4 linked regions of the Homo sapiens genome follow. The protein of the gene in region 1 interacts with the protein of each later gene in a biochemical or structural test. Each region holds a gene or a part of one and is shown in the gene's direction. Other genes may lie near its edges.

Evidence for each region. Proteins that work in one complex are often made in the same cells at the same time.
Region 2: of the proteins of HIPK2 (region 1) and SIAH1, one has a biochemical effect on the other in vitro, tested with the Homo sapiens proteins (4 studies listed by BioGRID, with this or other methods).
Region 3: the proteins of HIPK2 (region 1) and SMAD2 form a complex in vitro, tested with the Homo sapiens proteins (one study listed by BioGRID).
Region 4: the proteins of HIPK2 (region 1) and SUMO1 form a complex in vitro, tested with the Homo sapiens proteins (one study listed by BioGRID).

Annotation. Positions count from the first base shown.
Region 1 is NC_000007.14:139,559,795-139,565,811, reverse strand, and holds the end of HIPK2 (homeodomain-interacting protein kinase 2), read left to right. Parts: 3' UTR 1-4,242; downstream 4,243-6,017.
Region 2 is NC_000016.10:48,375,407-48,379,990, reverse strand, and holds part of SIAH1 (E3 ubiquitin-protein ligase SIAH1), read left to right. Parts: intron 1-4,584. UniProt on the Homo sapiens protein: E3 ubiquitin-protein ligase that mediates ubiquitination and subsequent proteasomal degradation of target proteins.
Region 3 is NC_000018.10:47,868,153-47,872,736, reverse strand, and holds part of SMAD2 (mothers against decapentaplegic homolog 2), read left to right. Parts: intron 1-2,172; coding exon 2,173-2,262; intron 2,263-3,300; coding exon 3,301-3,494; intron 3,495-4,279; coding exon 4,280-4,414; intron 4,415-4,584. UniProt on the Homo sapiens protein: Receptor-regulated SMAD (R-SMAD) that is an intracellular signal transducer and transcriptional modulator activated by TGF-beta (transforming growth factor) and activin type 1 receptor kinases.
Region 4 is NC_000002.12:202,214,591-202,219,174, reverse strand, and holds part of SUMO1 (small ubiquitin-related modifier 1 isoform a precursor), read left to right. Parts: intron 1-4,584. UniProt on the Homo sapiens protein: Ubiquitin-like protein that can be covalently attached to proteins as a monomer or a lysine-linked polymer.

The DNA of each region.
Region 1 (6,017 bases):
ACCAGAGGCAGGGTTCACACCAAATTTGTAAATACCATATGTGGGTCTGGTGTCCAGGAACTTTTTTCTTTCTGTTAAAAAAAAGAAAAAAAAAAGAAAAAAAAAAAGAAGTAGAGGTGGAAGAAAGACAAGACTTAGAGGAACAAAAGAATGTTTTCTTTTGAGATACTCTTCTCAAAGAAATAGCAACAATTGTATAAACAGGAAAACCAGCCAGCTTTCATGATAAAAGGAAGGCGTGTCTCTTGCCCTGGTATGAGATTAACAGAAATACAGATGCATTTTTATTTTGATTGAAAGATGGTGAGAATGTAGAAATGCTTAGGACTAGATTTTTAATTTTTTAAAATAACTATTATCATTTATTATGAAATATTTGTTCAGTTGTTTTGAGTGGGTTTCTTGTTCCTTTTTTCATTTAAAACCTTCTTTGTTGACTGGCTCCAGGCTTGTTTGCCTAAATTCTTAGGTAGTTTACACAAGTTCTAGAATCTTTTAGAACTTTAACTCCATTGGAAGCAAACCTAACTAATCGGAGTTTGAGATCCTGGTTGGTTTCAATAGGTATTCTGGAATTCTGGCAGAACACCTAAAGATTTTTTTTTTTTTTAGAAGGTTTTAGATACATTATCTTACACAAACTGTGACCTAATGGCAATAATTACCTCAAATGTGGGCATTCATCCTGGTTTTAGCCTTTTTTGAAATCATGTAGCCAGCTTGATCTTGGAATTTAAAGACTATGAATTCTCTGTGGGCTGAAAATAATGATTACTTCATACCCCCGGTCATCGTTGCTTAAGTGAATTCTGAAAATAGCTCATCTTTACAACAAAAATTAAACCAAGGAAGAGATTATTCTTTGTGTGTTGTACTCAAATGCGATGTTCAAATGCACATGTTAAGTATATATGTTTTTAGCTACTGTAAAATGCTGTTAGCCTTCTAAGCTATCAAAACAGTCACATTTTAAATGAGTAAACTAAACAATTGACTGTGGATACTTAAGCATATTTCTGGCTACGTTTTATAGTTAAAGTGTTTTATAGTTTACATTTAGACTGGTACTTTTTAAAGAAAAGTTCTGTTTATAACTGACATCCGCAAACCCCAGTGAATGCCTCTTAGTTGGAGGTTGTGTCTCCCCCAAGGCAAGTGTGTTGTCCCAGACTCTTCTGTAGTCCAGCATGCGCACTTCCCTCTGGATTATTACTTTCCACGTGAACTCAAGAGAACATGAAAGGCAATCCAGATGGAGGGAAAAGGTGTGAGTCCGCAGCCCGGGCCAGATGCGAAGGTCTCATGCGTGTCGTCTAAACACTTGTCTTCAAGGCCTTCTCTCTGACATCTTGGAAGAGTCATTGAGAACAGATAACCTGGTTCATTGATTTTTGTCTTGATTTGAATATTTAACTTATTAATAGATCCACTGATTTCCAGGCACCAGGCAGTAGAAGAGACTGGGATTCAGGTGACCATGAAGGCACAGCTGCTACTTCTGGGCCGGGGGTGATATTTTGATCAGCGTTTTGTAGGGGAGGACCATATACCCCTATTCCCATGGTCGCTGGCTGGGTTTTCCATATATCTGCTGTCATTTATTCGTTTTCCCCTTAAAAGCAAAATCAATGTAAAAGGCTATGTTTACGTTTTACTCATTGTCCAGCTTAGACTCAAAGTCTAGTTCGGTGGGAGGGGGACCTTAGCATCCTCTCAGAGATGGTCAGGGCTGAGCAGGAGGAGGCAGAGACAGAGGGGCAGCTCAGCCTGGTCCATTGAGACCCACTCTAAACAGACATCATATTTGGAACAAGAAGATGCTTCGAGACAGGAATGGGCCCCACTGTCATGCAGAAACAGACTGGGGGAATGGCAGTTTCCCTGAGTCTTGGTTTCTTTTATGTTTTCTCTTGTGCCACCACCAAACTGCAGAGGACCTGCTGTGACCTAAAGGGCATTCCTTTAGCAGATAAGACCTTGAAAACTGCAAAACACCTGGGACCAGGGAGCTTTTAAAAAATACAAAAAAATACCACATTTGCTTTTTCCCTGTGAACTGTATTGACAGCGTGTTCTTAGGACAGTCTTTTGGTGGAAATGTTACTGTAAAATAGTTTTCATCTCACCCCTCCTAATCATACTCCCACTTTCCTGTTTGTGTGGTGGTGTTGCTGTTTTTTCCTTTACATGAATTAACCAAATGAATTTTGTGTCATTGTTTTTGGGGCTTATATTTTTAAAACATAGAAATTGCCTTTTGTTCATTTGAAAAGTAAGTATGTTGTATCTGAAAAAGGGCTCTGCCTCTGCTCTCCCTCGCTTCCTTGTAACCAATCTCCAAACGAATCTCTCCTGGCACCGCCCCCTTCCTTATATAGGGTCACTGTCCCCGGGGCCACCTCTGCCTCCACCCTGCTGTCACCACTGCCCTGGGCCAAGGCACCCAGGACTCCCAGAAAGCGCGAGAGCCAGCAAGAAGGCCCCACTCAGCCTTGAGACTGGTGGTCACACCTCCCTGTCAGAGTCGCCTGCTGGGCTGAAGGGGCAATGGATTGTCATTGTTGAAATTGTTTGGCTCAGGTTATAAGGAGGAACTTGGGAAGTAGAAAGTGACTTGACCATGTGCATCCTTGGTAGCTTCCTGTAACTAACAAATGGAACAGAGAGCACACCCCCGCCCCGCCCCACCCCAAGCAGATGTTCCCGTCAGCGCTGCCCTGAGTCAGTCGGTCCCCCGTTTCTGCTCTCCTCCCTTTTGTGTTCCTGCTCACTTCAAGCTTCTTCCATGGACTTTCCAGGGCACAGTCATCTCTAGCCCCCAAATCATCTCTTCATCCTCTGTGTGTGCATTTTTTTAACCAAATGAAATAGACAAGAAAGTCATACTTTGGGGCAGCAGAATTTCTAATTTAGTAGAATCACTGTATAGAGATAGATGTTGATATATATGTTTGTGTATATATATCAAACCAAATTGGATAGGAGAAGTATAGCTTTACAGATGAGGAGAAGGAGCTCTTTAGAGGTCGGAGTCAAGACTGGTGTCTTGGACGTGCATGGGCTGTGTCCCAGGCCACTCCGCACACATGGGGCTGAGGCGTGGCGCCGGGCCCTTGTCATCCACCTCACCACGGCAGAGCCAGCAGGCCCTGTAGGGTGCTGCTGCTGTCTCACTGGGTCCCAGCTTCAAGCGCATCAGTGGGTGACGGGGGCAACAAATCAGAGTGACTGGAAGTTTCCATCCCGTTTTGCTTTGACCACGTGTACTGAGCTGCAGCCTCTGATACTCTGTCACGTTTCCAAAAATGGTATCCATTAGGATAGAAAGAGAATGGATCTGCAGAAATGTTTACCTTTCAACTGCTCATGAATTCAGGACACTGGATAGAAAGACTCACTCCCCAAAATGAGAACAGGGAAGAGGAGACCCGGCGACACTAAGTCACCAGGTCCAAGGAACGTGGCTCCCTCCCCAGGGTCATCTCACCTAGATCTTTCTCTCCCAGGTCATCTCAGCTCAATCTCAATAACCCTATGAAAGCCCTGGTCTGTTGTGTTCCTTCACCGTACGGTTTCTGTAATAAAAAGTGTTAATCCATGTTAATCTGTGTGAAAATTATTGCGTGCAACAGTATTTTCTCGTGTACCTCTTTTTCCTATGTGAATTGTCCCTCTTTTTTATTTATAAATGTCTACTTTTGTTTTTTTAAAGACAAACCAATGTGTTGTAGACCTATATGTAACCTATTCCTTAGTCTCATATTATAGGTATGTTATAAGAATGGATATTTTACTTGGCTTTAGAATGTTTTACAAGAAAACTAATTCTTAACTGATCAAGTCCTTGCTACTAAAATGCTTGTGTTTTTCATCATGACGTCGTGTGCTTCTAAATTAATCATTTTCGTTGTAGAAAAATGGAGTGAATTTATATTAGTCTTGGAAACTAATAATAGCATTGTAAATTTATGAGATGATTTTAACAGAAAAAATATAGAAGAATATAGTTATTTTAATTGTAATATTACTAACTGTAGGGTGAGAAAAAGGGGGGGGGGTCCCATTGTGGTGAACTATGTTATAGCTTGTTACTCATAGTTTCTTTTTGATCATTTTTTCGGTCTCCGAGGTGAAATGACTTATTAATTAAAATTTGTAAACTCACATATGCATATTGTATATGTGTAGAAATGTAATCACACTTTGTCTTGGAATTACATTAAACTGTTTGAAATCACTGTACACCTGCCTGGCATGCTTATTTATCCTGGAACCAGACCTGTCATAAAAGCGAAGAGGTTATTGTTACAAGTAACATATTTGGGGTTTGTTTGTTTATTTAGATGGAGTTTTGCTCTTGTTGCCCAGGCTGGAGGGCAATGGCACGATCCTGGCTCACTGCAAACTCCGCCTCCCAGGTTCAAGTGATTCTCTTGCCTCAGCCTCCCGAGTAGCTGGGATTACAGGCATGCACCACCACGCCCGGCTAATTTTGTATTTTTAGTAGAGATGGGGTTTCTCCATTTTTTGGTCAGGCTGGTCTCGAACTCCTGACCTCAGATGATCCACCTGCCTCGGCCTCCCAAAGTGCTGGGATTACAGGCATGAGCCACTGCGCCGGGCCGAGATTATTTAATGGCTCTGGAAATGTGTAGAAGCCACCACTGCATTGAACATTTGCAGAGAGAGGTGGGGGGCCTTGAGATCACATTACTACCAATTCCCATGCAGTTGAGTGGGGCTAAGAGTCTCCCAGCTTCCTGCTGCCTCTTCCAAGCCATTTCAGCCCCATCTGCTCCCAATCTCTGTCCCTGACACCTAAGGTGTGGCTGTCACCTGCTGTCCTGGAAGCTTTCCAATATGCATCCCGGATCCTCCGCACCCAGGCCCTGCCGTCTCACCAGACACCATCAGCACCCGGAGCCTCGTGGCTTGCTGGCCCATTGCCAGGGCCCTTGCCACTGCGCACTTGAGCTACGTGCGCCACAGCCCCGTCCAGGCGCTGTGCCTGCAGCAGCTCCACCTCAGCAAGCCTAAGAAACGCCACATCCTGCTGGGACTGGGGTTTCCCAGCCTTCTGACACTCTTTTTGTCTTAAATTATGGTAAAATATACATAATATAAAATTACCATTTTAAGTGGACTACTAGCAACGTTAAATACGTTCACATTATTGTATAGGTGTCACCACCATTTCCAGAATTTTTTCATCATCCCAAACACAAGTTCTGTCCCCATTAACAACTCCCCATTTCTCCCTCCACCCGGTGCCTAGCAACCACCCTTCTACTCTGTCTCCATGAATCTGCCTATCCTAGATATTTCATGTAAGTAGAATCATATATTTGTCCTTTTGTGTCTGGTCTATCTCACTTAGCATAATGTCTTTAGGGTTCATTCATGTTATGGCATACATCAGAATTCCATTCCTTTTCATGGCTGAATAATATTCCATTGTATGGAGAGATCACATTTGGCTGATCCATTTATCTGTTGATGGACATTTGAGTTGCTTCCACCTTTTGGCTGTTGTGCAAATGCTGCTGTGAACATTGGTGTGCAAAAGATCTGTTCAAATCCCTGCTTTCAGTTCTTCCGGGAGTGTACCCACAAGGGAACTGCCGGATCCTACAGCAATTTTAAGATTAACCCTTTGGGGTCCCATCATTCTGTTCCCCACAGCAGCTGTACCGTTTCACATTCCCACCAGCAATGCACAAGGTGTCCTGTTTCTCCACCCAGCACTCATCCTGGCTTCCATTTCCAGGATTTTCAAGTCTGGGGAGCTCTGGGTTCCAAGCCCTCGGTCTTCTGTGCCTCTGGGTTGGCCAGACTAAACTCCACAGCCCTTCCCTCCACCCACCTTTTCCCCTACACCCTCAGCTCACAGCCTTTTGCCTCTGCCACACCCCCTCGCAATGGCTCAGTGATTCTGCTGTCCACCTCTGCTCCGAGGGCTGCTGGGGAAGACCACCAAGCCCTGAAAACGAATAACCTCCAGCTTCGCCAGGTCTTCT
Region 2 (4,584 bases), on another chromosome or scaffold:
ACTGCAGTTTAAGTGAGCTTTCTAATAGGTGAACCTGACTTAAAAGGCTTTCAGTGTAAAGTTCTAAGTTCTTGATATGGTTCGTAAGTACATAGCCTCTCCTGAGCTGGCCTCTCTTGTTACTCCCCTGCCATTTTGGACTTTACTTGCAAGCCCCTCTCATCCTATTAAGCTCTCTTATCTCAGCCTGGACATCACTAGCTGAGAAGCTCTTTGTGAACTCTGCACATTGAATTGGATGTCATCTCTGTGTTCCCATAGCACTCTGCTCGGTCCCACTGTAACATATCCTCCTGAATTATAATTTTTCTTTAGTTGTATGCCTCCCCAGATAGACTGTAATCTCTATGACGACTTGGTCATCCTTGTGTCTCAAGAGTTTAGGACTCTTTCTGGAACATAGGTGGTGCTCAGTAAAAAGTTATTGAGCGACTGACTCCACACTGTCCTTATTAAACTCTTCTAGCCTTTTCGTTGTGTTTTGTTTTTACCAAGGCATAGTGTTTCTTACAAACTTCTCTAGCCTTATTGCCTGTGTTTCCCCTTTGCCCTACCTAGGCCAACTGGGTTCTTTTGTTCCTTGAACACTGCTTTAGCATCTCTGTGCCTTTGGTCATGATTGTATTTAGCCTCTGAAATGTCTATTTGTGCTACTTTGGGTAGATTACTGAACCTCTCTAAGCCTTAGTTCTATTAGTACATGAACAGTTATTAAGTATATTGCTGTTCCCTGCCTTCCCCTCGCCCCCCCAGCCCCCATGTCCTAATGCTAGAGTGTCAGTATAATTAAGTGGCTAAGAGGACAAGCCCTTAAGAGTCAGATCTGGATGTGTCTCTTGGCTCTATCACTTATTAGTTGTGTTTGTGACTTTAAGTTCCATGAGAGCAGAGACACTGCCTACTTTGCATCTAAAAGCACATTGCCTAACACAGCAAGTGTTGTAAAAAGATTAGTTGTTGAGTAAGTTACTTCTCTAAATATTACCACTTACCTTCTAGTGAGGAAAGAAAGAAACAGAATTACAAATTGTGAAGTGTACTGTAAAGGAGTCAAAGTGCTGAAGAGACCAGTGGGGTGGAAGGGAGACCTGGTGTCCAAGGATAAGGAGCTCGCCCTTTGAAGGGGGAAGGAGTACATCTTAGATGGAAGATGCAGCCAGATAAAGGCCCCATGAAGTAGGGATGAATTTGGACTGCTCTAGGACCTGAGGAGTGTTGCTGGAGCAAATGGGTAGTAGAGAGAGACAGGTTGAAGAACTGTGCAGAGGGAAAGAGAGGAGAGATGCTGTGAAGTGTTAGCTGATATTAGCATCTGGCTGTTGTTCAAGGAGATTCTAGGAGAATACCTAGAGCAATATTAGGACTTTTATTTTCTAAATGTAAACTATTTTGTTGACATTTAGCCTAAATACATATGGAAAAAGTGCTCAAATCATGTGTACAGCTTGACATTTTCACAAAAGGAACGCTATTGTAACCACCTCCCAGATCGAAGAAACAAGGAGCCGCCCCCTTCACAGGAAACCACCTCTTGACTTTTTACACCATAGATTTATTTTGCCTAATTTTGTGCCTTATATGAATGGAACAGTAGAGTTTGTACTCTTTCATTCTTTTGTTGTTGTTGTTGTTGTTTTGTGACAAAGTTTCACTCTTGTTGCCCAGGCTGGAGTGCAATGGCACAGTCTTGGCTCACGGCAACCTCCACCTCCCGGGTTCAAGCGATTCTCCTGCCTCAGCCTCTCGAGTAGCTGGGATTACAGGCATGCACCACCACACTTGGCTAATTTTTTGTGTTTTTAGTAGAGATGGGGTTTCTCCATGTTGGTCAGGCTGGTCTTGAACTCCCAACCTCAGGTGATCTGCCTGCCTTGGCCTCCCAAAGTGCTAGGATTACAGGCGTGAGCCACTGCGCCCGGCCTGTACTCTTTCATTTCTGTTTGGCTTCTTTCACTCAACATTATGTTTTTTTGTGTGATTAAGGAGTATTATTTGCTTATCCATGACAAAGTTACCAGCTGAATAGCCATGTGTCCCAGTACTTCTTATTTTATTTTATTATAATTTTTATTTTTATTAGAGACGAGATCTCACTATGTTGTCCAGGCTGGTCTCAAACTCAAAGGCTTTAGCAATCCTGCCGCCTCGGCCTCCCAGATTGTTGGGATTACAGGTGTGAGCTGCCACACCTGGCCCTTCTTTTGTTTTTTAAGTCTTATTCTTTTCCCTGACCATCTCAAATACTTTCTGACCAGTATTTCTAGAACGATTTTTTTTTTCCTTAAATCTTCAGGAGGCTCAGCGTGGCGGCTCACGCCTGTAATCCCAGCACTTTGGGGAGGCCGAGGCTGGTGGATCACTTGAGGTCAGGAGTTCAAGACTAGCCTGGCCAACATGGTGAAGCCCTGTCCTTGTCTCTACTAAAAATAAAAAAATTAGCTGGGCATGGTGTCATCCCCCTGTAATTCCAGCTACTCGGAGGCTGAGGCAGGAGAATCACTTAACCCGGGAGGTGTAGGTTGCAGTGAGCCGAGATGGTGCCACTGCACCCAGCCTGGGCAACAGAACAAGACTCTGTCTCAAAAAAAAAAAAAAAAAAAGTCTTCCAGAACTTTAGGTTTAATGTTACAGACAAGATATGACCAGAATAAAGCTGGCAGAAACCTTCCATTAGGTTTGTGGTTGCCCAGTCATGTTTGAACTGACTTGTTTTTTTTGTTTTGTTTTGTTTTTGGTTTTTTTTGCTTATTCGTTTTTGTTTTGAACAGGGAGTCCGGGCACATGGAATAAACTAGAAAGAGAAAAACCTTTGGAGAACTAATTATATTTATAAAACAGATCTTGCCAGTGAGAAATATTTTCTTAAGGAGTTTAATGCCAGTCTTGAATTTTGTAGAAAATATTTCAGCGTACTTGGTATAGTTATTTATTAGTGTCACATCGACCACCTTGGTCTAGTGATGGTTGATACAGTAAATATAAGTGTATACTAGCTTCTCTGCAAAGACTCTACCTTGGAAAGATTACTTCAATAATTTATTTGACAAAATGAAGTAATCCTCTCCCTGTTAAAAACTTCTTCCTGGTTTCCTTCCTTTGTATTTCACATTAAATTTTGCCCTTTTGAATTTGGCCAGAACTCAGGCTTGTTGGGTAAGGTAGCTTTACTTCTAAAAACTTGTCAAGGGCCCTGATTTAGCTTTATTAGAACAACTTCGGATATCTTGTCTATACAGACGTTAGTTAATTTTTGCAGACTGTATTCTTTTGAGTTTGTGAGGGGAGGGGGGCTATCATAAATTTTGTTAACTTTTAAAATGTTTAAGATATTTTCAGCCGGGTGTAGTGCCGGGCGCCAGTAATCCCAGCTACTTGGGAGGCTGAGACGGGAGAATTGCTTGAACCTGGGAGGTGGAGGTTGCAGTGAGCTGAGATTGCACCACTGCACTCCAGCCTGGGCGACAGAGCGAGACTCTGTCTCAAGAAAAAATAAATAAGATTTTTTTTTATAGTATAAAATAAAATGTCTACAAAATATGTAGTTTTTTGTGAATAGGCTGGTTTTAAGTTTCCTGTAAGTATCCATCTATTTGAGGAATTTTGAGAAAAAAAGTGAAAGCAAGGAGAAAATCAGCTCTTGAATTCTGTATTTGATGTTCTGTAGAAGTTACTAGCAATTCATTAACAGAAAATGTGGAGATATGATAAAATGTGCATTAAAATTTTTAAGTGTAATATTTTTTGTTGCCAATAATTTTATGAAACATTGGAGAGATACCGAAATCCCTCCTCACCCCCAAACTATTATTTATAATCTGATTACTAAAAAGTAACCATCATAGACATTTTGGTGTAGTCTGGGTGTGCTTCACATTTTTTTGTTTTACTCAGCCAAAGATATTTTAAAGTTAGTTTCTTTGATCTGACCTAAATTCTTGTAGTTCTCATGATTATCATCTCTAAGAACTATATATGTTTGAACTGTGTACTGTAATTTCAAACGATGGAATTTGTGCCGACAGTCTCTGTTTCTTGGAGTTCTTGATGCTTTGTGTGCCTGTAGTTCAGTGGTCCCATCTCTCTCTGGTTTCTAATTCCAGGCTTGCTCTCCCTTTGTCTGATCCTGCATCTTAAACCATTAAACTACATTCTGCAGTTTGGATGTCCTTCCAGTTTCTTTTCTGTTTCATTACATGCTACATACATGCATACATACATGAAAATATATACATCAATGTGCATATCTATTATACTTACCTATTTTTTTCTTTTAACCTAAATGAAATTGTAATCTGTATATTCTGTAGCTTTTTTTCTCCCCCCAATTTGTTTTTTGTTTTTTGTTTTTTTTTGAGACGGAGTCTCGCTCTGTCGCCCGGGCTGGAGTGCAGTTGGCCTGATCTCATCTCACTATACCCTCTAACTCCTGCGTTCAAGCAATTCTCTTGCCTCAGCCTCCCTAGTAGCTGGGATTACAGGTGCCCACCACCATGCCTGGATAATTTTTGTATTTTTAGTAGAAACAGTTTCACCATGTTGGCCAGGCTGGTCTCCAACTCCTGACCTCAAGTGATCCACCTGTCT
Region 3 (4,584 bases), on another chromosome or scaffold:
TTCTCTTAAGGAGTGCCCAGCCTAAAGCCCTCGCATGTGCAGTTCACAATAGGGTTCTTGCTCCTATGAGAATCTAATGCCACTGCTGATCTTCCAGGAGGCAGAGCTCAGGTGGTAATGGTCTCTCCCCTGCTGCTCACCTTCTGCTGTGTGTCCTGGTTCCTAACAGGCCGTGGACCGGTATCAGTCTGTGGCCTCTGAGACTCCTGCTTTAAGTCATCTCTATATTATGCATAATATGTAATACATTGTAAATGCTGTGTAAATAGTTGTTATACCATATTGTTTTTAAATTTTGTATTTTTCAATTGTTGTATTTTTTAGTTTTAAAAATTTACTTATTTTTTCTACTTTTTGATCCACGGTTGGTTGAATCCAAGGATGTGGAACCCTTGGATACAGAGGGCTCTATGTTTTATTATAAATTGGCTTATTTTAAAAAATATTTTTTATTATGTAAACAGGCAATGATTTTACTAGCTAGAAGCAAATTTAATGTTTTAAAATAAACCTTCCAATTTTGTTAGGCATGATAATGATGGAACTGAGGCTTAAATATACCCTATGGCAGCAGTTGGAAAGTGGCCGAATTAGGGTTGGGGTCTAGATCTGTCTGCCTCTAGATTGATTGCAAGTTCTTAACAATTACTGTTTATTCTTCTCTGATTCCTTTCAAGGATTAAATAAAGTACAATGTAAACTTCATGCTCTATTTTAGATTCTGGTTCTCATGTGAGTCCCAGAATAACTTGAGTGAAATGTTCTGATACAGAGCAGAATAGCCTCTTGTGCTACACTTTTGTTAATTATTTTCAAAGAATAGTCTCCTGTATACCATTTCTTTAATAGACTCAGAAGTCTGTAGAATTGAGGTGATTCTGTTGTGATTTAAACTACATCATGCTATATGTTTCCAATAGATATTTGAAAATATCTTTTAAATAAACCATTAATGTCATGGTTTTTAAATCAGTATATCTTTGGAAAAAAGGGAAAGGTCTAAGCCTTAATTTACCTGGCTTTTTCTGGCTTTTATAGTCTGGTAAATTTTGCAGCCTGAAAAAGCAAGAGAATCTATAAAATACTTGAATGAGATGCTGGAAAATTTCAGAACAGGTTTTGTTTTGAACTGTCGGGTCACTGTAGCCCCCAAAGCAGGGCATGATGTGTTCCTGCAGCCTGATAGCTATGTGACAGCACCTGTAGTACTAAAGCCAAGGATGCCAGGTGGTTCTGTTGCCTGGCCACAGGAAGCCAGCGCTTCTCACCATTGCCCTTTGAACTGTTGATCCAGTTAAGCTCACTAACAATGTGTAAATATGAAATTTAATCAATTGCTTGATTCATTTTCAAAAGATGTTTTGAAATACTCCTTTATCCGCATTGAAGTTTTGATGATTTTGTAATATGTAAGAAATGGACTTTTCAGAAAAGTACAACTTAGTACTTGAGACATTGGCTGTCAAAGTTCCATTCCAAAACTTCCTTTTAAGCTCTCTTTCCCTTCTCTCACTGACCAGAAGTTACTATGAAATGAAATAAAGGTAGGGAAAAAGGGAGAATTATCTCTGAGCTGCCCATATTCTGGAGAGAAATGTGGGAGAAAATTTTTAAGGTGGTATACTAAATTAGAATGACTTCAAAGTCTATTTCTTTATTTATTCTAGAGATGAGAACAAAATAATTTTCAGTAAAACTTAAAAATATCATGACCAGATAACCTGAAAATCTTAACTGTGGATGCATGTCTATTTTTATTGGGATTTTTTTCTATATTAAAAATCAGTTGACATCTGTTTTTAGATAATTTTTTAAAAAACTGGATTATAAAATGAAGCACTTAGTAAAGCTGATGGCAGAGGTTTTAGATCTTTTGAATACAGGAAAGTGGTAAGGGCATTATAGGTATGATTCATTGAGCTAGAGGGCGTTGGTGTTCACATTTTAAAAACATAATCATGACTTATCTGGAGTCACATGTTCCATTTTATTGGCTTCCTTCATATAGAAAATATAGTAACCAGCACTACATGCCTGTGAAAAAGTGAAGCAATTGTATATTTTCTGGGTGAAGGAAGTATTCTGTACATTCTCCATGTTTTACATCATGGTATTTTGAATAACCATGCTTCCATGTTCACATCAATTTTTTGTTTTTCAATTTATGCACAGCACTTGCTCTGAAATTTGGGGACTGAGTACACCAAATACGATAGATCAGTGGGATACAACAGGCCTTTACAGCTTCTCTGAACAAACCAGGTGAATATTCTGCCCTCTGTCGAATCTTAGAGATCTTGTGGGAGGGGGGTATATTTTGAAAGACCTATATGGGGTTGCTTAGTATAATTTTGCCTAGGATGTTTCCTTAATGTAAAATAAGGCATAGCATTTAAAATATCTGCTTGCCAGTATAAAAAATATATTAAATGTTTCAGCTGATGTTTTAATCAATGCAATTCTAGTTTGAATCTTCTTTAAATTACTGTATCCCCTAAAGAATAATAATTTTGATAACTATATATTTATTTTAGCTTGAGATCAGATTATAATCTGTTGTTGGCCTAATTTTTAAGTAGATACATGATGAGTTTTGCTAAATTTCTTGTTATCAGAATCTCATCTTTATACTAATAAATACATACTTAATGAACCCCTTATATCACAATTAACAGTAGGTTAACTCATTTTTATGTTACTTTTTTTAATCACTTCATTTTCTTTTTTGCGTATATGGTATTTGTTCATTTCATCTCATCATATTCATCACCATCCACATTTATTTGTGAACTACATAAATATACCTCAGTTCTCAAAACAGTCACAACTGGGTAAAGAGTTGCAGTAGTCTGAGGAAGTTACTATCACATCATTGTTGGTATTTATCATTCTTCACACTAGTTCCTTTTCTGACTCTTCAGTCACCTCCAGAATTAATATCCTTAGAAGCATCTCTAAAATGAGTTTGATTTACTAAACATAGAAGTTGACAAAGTTTTTCAAGTATAACTGCATAAACTCTCTTTTTTAAAAAATCAGTTTTTCCCAAGTTGTTAGCCTTTCATTGGCATTTGAGTCATTTATGTGACATATTTATAAGAAACATCTGCTAGTGCTGCTGCATACTTTTATCAGATCCATTAAATAGTACATTTTTGTTCTTGATTCTCACTAAAACTAACTAAATGGCTGTCATTCTTTTCTTTATGCTTTTATTGTACTAATTTAGCCCATTTGACTGCACTTTTTTTTTTTTTTTTTTAAAGTTCCCTCCTTTCTTTTCCCCTTGCTTCCCAACAGGTCTCTTGATGGTCGTCTCCAGGTATCCCATCGAAAAGGATTGCCACATGTTATATATTGCCGATTATGGCGCTGGCCTGATCTTCACAGTCATCATGAACTCAAGGCAATTGAAAACTGCGAATATGCTTTTAATCTTAAAAAGGATGAAGTATGTGTAAACCCTTACCACTATCAGAGAGTTGAGACACCAGGTAGGAATATTGCAAGTTTTTTTCTTGGTTTTGAATTAAATGCCTGAACTTCAGTATATTTAAGTACTCTTGTGACCCAGGAAAATTTTAGTGTAAATTCTAATAAATTACCTTAAATTGTGCATATTATTTGGTGGTAATTAAAATTTTTTTATTTTTAAAAATTTTTAATGAGAAAACATATCTGTTTCTTGGAATAGCATATGATTTGGCATGAAAGTGCATATCCAGGAAATCCTGTAGATTGGCAGTCTGCTCAGCGCTATGCTGATGTGCTTCTACATGTCCCTGCTGCAGTAACATTTTCAAGCATTTTGCACTTGGAGTGCTTTTAGAAGTACTTTAATGACATCATTTGTATGTACACCGTTTAGTAAAGCTTGTAACAAGACTTTTCATTTAGTTAGCTGTCTACCTGAAACTATTAAAAAATATAGCAGTAGCTGCGTTTTTGGAAAATTTCCTATATCTGATTTTACAGATAAAGACAATGTTAAGTTTTCCAATGGGGATTTATGAACTTTTATGGTAATATAATATTACCAGGATCACATTGTTCCCAAAAGTTTGAGATAAATTAGAACTTGGAAATTTGGATAATAGACTACCTAAGTTAGAGCCATAATCAGATTTGTCATTTTCTCAGTAACTAGTATATATCGAGTAGGTGGACCCTAGCTTTAAAAATTAAGCTACAACTTCTCTTCTTGTTGAAAACTTTAAAAAAGGTTCCCCCACTCCCCTTTGCTCTTTGCCATTAACTTGGATTTCTTGAACTTTTTCAGTTTTGCCTCCAGTATTAGTGCCCCGACACACCGAGATCCTAACAGAACTTCCGCCTCTGGATGACTATACTCACTCCATTCCAGAAAACACTAACTTCCCAGCAGGAATTGAGCCACAGAGTAATTATATTCCAGGTATTTTTGCCTTCTGAATCTCCTAAAACTTGGATAGATACAAATTTTGTTCATAAGCATTCAAGTTTTAGTAAATTGTGGTTTCACTTTTTTAAAAATGCTTTTGAGTTTTTAATAGAAAAATTGGATTCGTTGGGTGATTATTTTGTGAAATGTATAAGCCTAGTACA
Region 4 (4,584 bases), on another chromosome or scaffold:
ATTAACAGTCTTTAAATTTTGTTCAAATATGCTAGGTAAAACATTTTTGTTTATTTTTCATTTACCTGATTATTAATAAGGTATAATTTTTTTGGTCTGTTACATTTATATTCTTCTGTTAATTGTGTTCATACCCTTTTCCCATTTTTCTGTGATTATCTTATTTTGAAGACTTTTATTTTTTATTTTCAAAATTTTTTAAATTTAAATTTTATTTTGAAATGGAGTTGTGCTCTTGTTGGCAGGCTGGAGTGCAATGGCGTGATCTTGGCTCACTGCACCCTTCACTCCTGGGTTCAGGTGATTCTCCTGCCTCAGCCTCCCGAGTAGCTGGGACTACAGGTGCCTGCCACGAAGCCTGACTAATTTTTTTAAAAAATATTTTTAGTAGAGACGGGGTTTCCCCATGTTGGCCAGGCTGGTCTCGAACTCCTGACCTCAGGTGATCCCCACCCGTCTCGGCCTCCCAGAGTTCTGGGATTACAGGTGTGAGCCACCATGCCGGCTTTATTTTGAAAACTTTTAAAAGATAAAATTCACATACTATAAAATTCACTATTTTAAAGTATATAATTCAGGGGCTTTAGTATTATTCACAAGTGTGTGCAGCCATCACCACTACTAATTCCAGAACATTTGCATTACCCCAAAAAGACACCCTGTACCCATTAGCAGTCATTCCCCATCCTATTTCCTCCAGCCAGTGACAACCATGATTCTACTTTCTGTCTCTATAGGTTTGCCTTTTGTGGACATTACATATAAATGGAATCATAAGATATATGGCTTTTTTTTTTTTTTTTTTTTTTTGAGGCAAGGGTCTCGCTGTGTCACCCAGGCTGGAGTGCAGTGGCCTGATCTCAACTCACTGCGACCTCAACCTCCTGGGTTCAAGCGACCCTCCTGCCATAGCCTCCTGAGTAGCTGGGATTTCAGGTGTGCACCACCATGCCCAGCTAATTTTTGTATTTTTAGTAGAGATGGGGTTTCGCCATGTTGGCCAGGCTGGTCTCAAACTCCTGACCTCAGATGATCCGCCTACCTCGGCCTCCCACAGTGTTGGGATTACAGGCATGAGCCACCATGCCTAGCTTTGATATGTGACTTTTTATTCTGGTTTGTTTCTTCTTTTCTGCCTTGCTTCCCTGTTCCTCTTCCCCTCCCTCCCCTCCCCCCCTCCCCATCCCCGTCTCCCTCTCCAGGGTTCTCGCTATGTTGCTCAGGCTGGTCTTGAACTCTTGGGCTTAAGTGATTCTCCCTCTTTGGCCTAAAGTTCTGGGATTATAGGTGTGAGCCACTATGCCTGGCCTGGCTTCTTTGTTTTAGCATGTTTTCAAGGTTCATTCATGCTGTAGCATGTATCAGTACTATATTCCTTTTAATGGCTGAATTCTGTTCCATTATATGGGTAGAATATATTTTGTTTTCCATTTATCAGTTGATATTTAGTTTGTCCCCATATTTTGGCTACTATTAATAATGTTGCTGTGAACATTCATGTGTGTTTTTGTATGGACATATGTTTTCAGCTCCCTTGGATATATACCTAGGAGTGGAATTGCTGGGTCTAGTATGCAACTATATGTTTTACTTTTTGAGGAACTGCCAAACTGTTTTCAGCAGTGGCCCTACCATCTTACATTCCTAGCAGCAACATATGAGGGTTTCAGTTTTTCCATATTCTGGTCAACACTTGTAATTATCCGTATTTTTGGTTATAATCCTAGTGGGTGTGAAGTGGTATCTCACTGTGGTTTCAACTTGCTCTTTCCTGATGGCTAATGATGCCAAGCATTTTTTTATGTACTTATTGGCCATTAGTACATCTTCTTTGGAAAAATGAAGTTCTTTAGATCTTTTGCCCATTTTTAAATTGGGTTAGTTGTCTTTTTATTGTTGAGTGGTAATATGTCTTTTATTCTGGGTATTAGACCTTTATCATATATATGATTTGCATGGATTTTCTCCTATCTTTGAGTTGTCTTTTCACTTTCTTGGTTTTATTCTTTGCAGCGTAAAGTTTTTAATTTTGGTAAATTAAGTTCATCTGTTTTTTCTTTTGTTGCTTGTAATTTATCTAAGAAACCATTACCTAATCCAGGGTCACAAAGGTTTACGCTTGTGGTTTAAGAGTTTTAAGGCTGGGCACAATGGCTCACACCTGTAATCTCAGCATTTTGGGAGGCCAAGGTGGGCAGATTGCTTGAGCTCAGGAGCTGGAGACCAGCCTGGGCAACATGGCGAAACCCCATCTCTACAAAAAATATAAAAAATTAGTAGGGCGTGGTGGCACATGCCTGTAGTCCCAGCTACTCAGGAGGCTGAGCAGGGAGAATCACTTGAGCCTGGGAGGTCAAGGCTGCAGTAAGCTGTGATCACGTGACTGTACTCCAGTCTGGGTGACAGAGTGAGACCCTGTCTCAAAAAAAAAAAAAAAAAAGTTTTATGGTTTTATTTATAGTTTTAGCTCTTACATTTAAATCTTTCATCATTTTGAATAATTTTTTATGGGTGTTTGTCCCAGACCATTAGTTGAAAAGACTGTCCTTTTCTCACTGAATTGTTCTGGTATCCTTGTCAAAAAATTGACTATAGATATAAGGGTTTTTTCTTGGCTCTCAATTTTATGCCATTGATCTATCTATATGTCCATATGCCATGGAATGTCTTTTTAAGAATTATTAATTTGTGGGATTTTTAAAAATATTGTCTTCATTTTCCTTGTCTGTTACATGTTATGAATATTTCCTCCAGTATGTCTTAACTTTTGTTTATGGCATCTTTTACTATACAGACGTTTTATGTTTTTATTAAGTCAAATTTATCCACCTCTTTTTTTTATGGTTTCTAGGTTAAAATCATGCTTTGCAATAGGGCATCCCAAGGCCAAAATTAGGGGAAAAAAATTCTCCCTTGAGGGGAAAATATTGAGAATTTTTTTTTTTTTTTTTTTGATGTGGAGCCTTGTCCTGTCATGCAGGCTGGAGTGCAGTGGTACTTCCGGCTCACTGCAACATCCGCCTCCCAGGTTCAAGCACTTCTCCTGCCTCAGCCTCCCGAGTAGTTGGGATTACATGCAACTGTCACCACACCCGGCTAATTTTTTATATTTTTAGTAGAGATAGGGTTTCATCATGTTGGCCAGGCTGGTCTTGAACTCCTGACCTCGTGATCTGCCCGGCTTGACCTCCCAAAGTGTTGGGATTACAGGAGTGAGCCACTGCACCTGGCCAAAAAAATTTTAATGTTAGCTCTTTAATTCATCTGCAAGTGATTTTTTTTTTTTTTTTTTGAGATGGCGTCTCACTCTGTTGCCCAGGCTGGAGTACAGTGGCGAGATCTAGGTTCACTGCAGCCTCCGCGTCCTGGGTTCAAGCGATTCTCCTGCCTCACCCTCCCGAGTAGCTGGGATTACAGGCATGCGCCACCACGCCTGGCTAATTTTTTTGTATTTTTAGTAGAAATGGCGTTCACCATGTTGGTCAGGCTGGTCTCGAACTCCTGAACTCAAATGATCCTCCTGCTTTGGCCTCCCAAAGTGTTGGGATTATAGGCATGAGCCACCATGCCCAGCCTGGAATTGATTTTAATGTATAGCATGAGGTTTGCTGTAGAATTTTATCTGTTTATGAAATGATCTATGTGAAGATAATTTTATTTCTTCATAGTTACAGTCACAAGAAAAATACTGTAAATGTGCAGCTTCTGCAAATACACATTTGTGAATGTGATATGTAGTCATGAAGTTTGGCTTTGAAAGTTTACATTATGCAAGTAACAGTATTTTTTCTGAGGATTGGCTGGCTGATAGTTTGTTTCACAATCTGAGCAGAATAAAATAATTTTTGGTCTCACAAATCAGTTTGACTAACTCAGGTTCTTACTCATTTTACTCATGTGAGAGAAACCAGATTCCATGTGGTGATTTTTTTTTTTTTTTTTTTTTTGAGATGGAGTACTGTTCTGTTTCCCAGGCTGGAGTGCAGTGGCGTGTTCTTGGCTCACTGCAACCTACACCTCCTGGGTTCAAGCAATTCTTCTGCCTCAGCCTCCTGAGTAGCTGGGACTACAGGTGTGTGCCACCATGCCTGGCTAATTTTTGTATTTTTAGTAGAGACGGGGTTTCACTATACTGGCCAGGCTGGTCTTGAACTCCTGACCTTGTGATCCGCCTGCCTTGGTCTCCCAAATTGCTGGGATTACAGGCATGAGCCACTGCGCTCAGCCCCATGTGGTGATTTTTTATGGCAGGAATAAATTTCTCAGTCGCTTATTGTATAAAATTGAATTTTATACAATTAATTATTATCTAATTAACTGCTTTTCTCCTAGGCGACCACCTTCAGTGACACTTCACTTGGGGGGACAGACTTTTTGTTTTGAGTTGCTATTGGGATAAATAAAAGATGCGATAGTTCATCTTTTATTTTGACAATAGAATGGCAAATGAAGGAATGCATTTACTTAGACTTTTACTTATACTGATAATTTTAACACTCAAGACTGATTAACTTTGTTTTACTCGGTTTCTTTTGTAATGGGTATACAGTAACTTTGAGGATGATTACACTGTTTTAAGAAAAC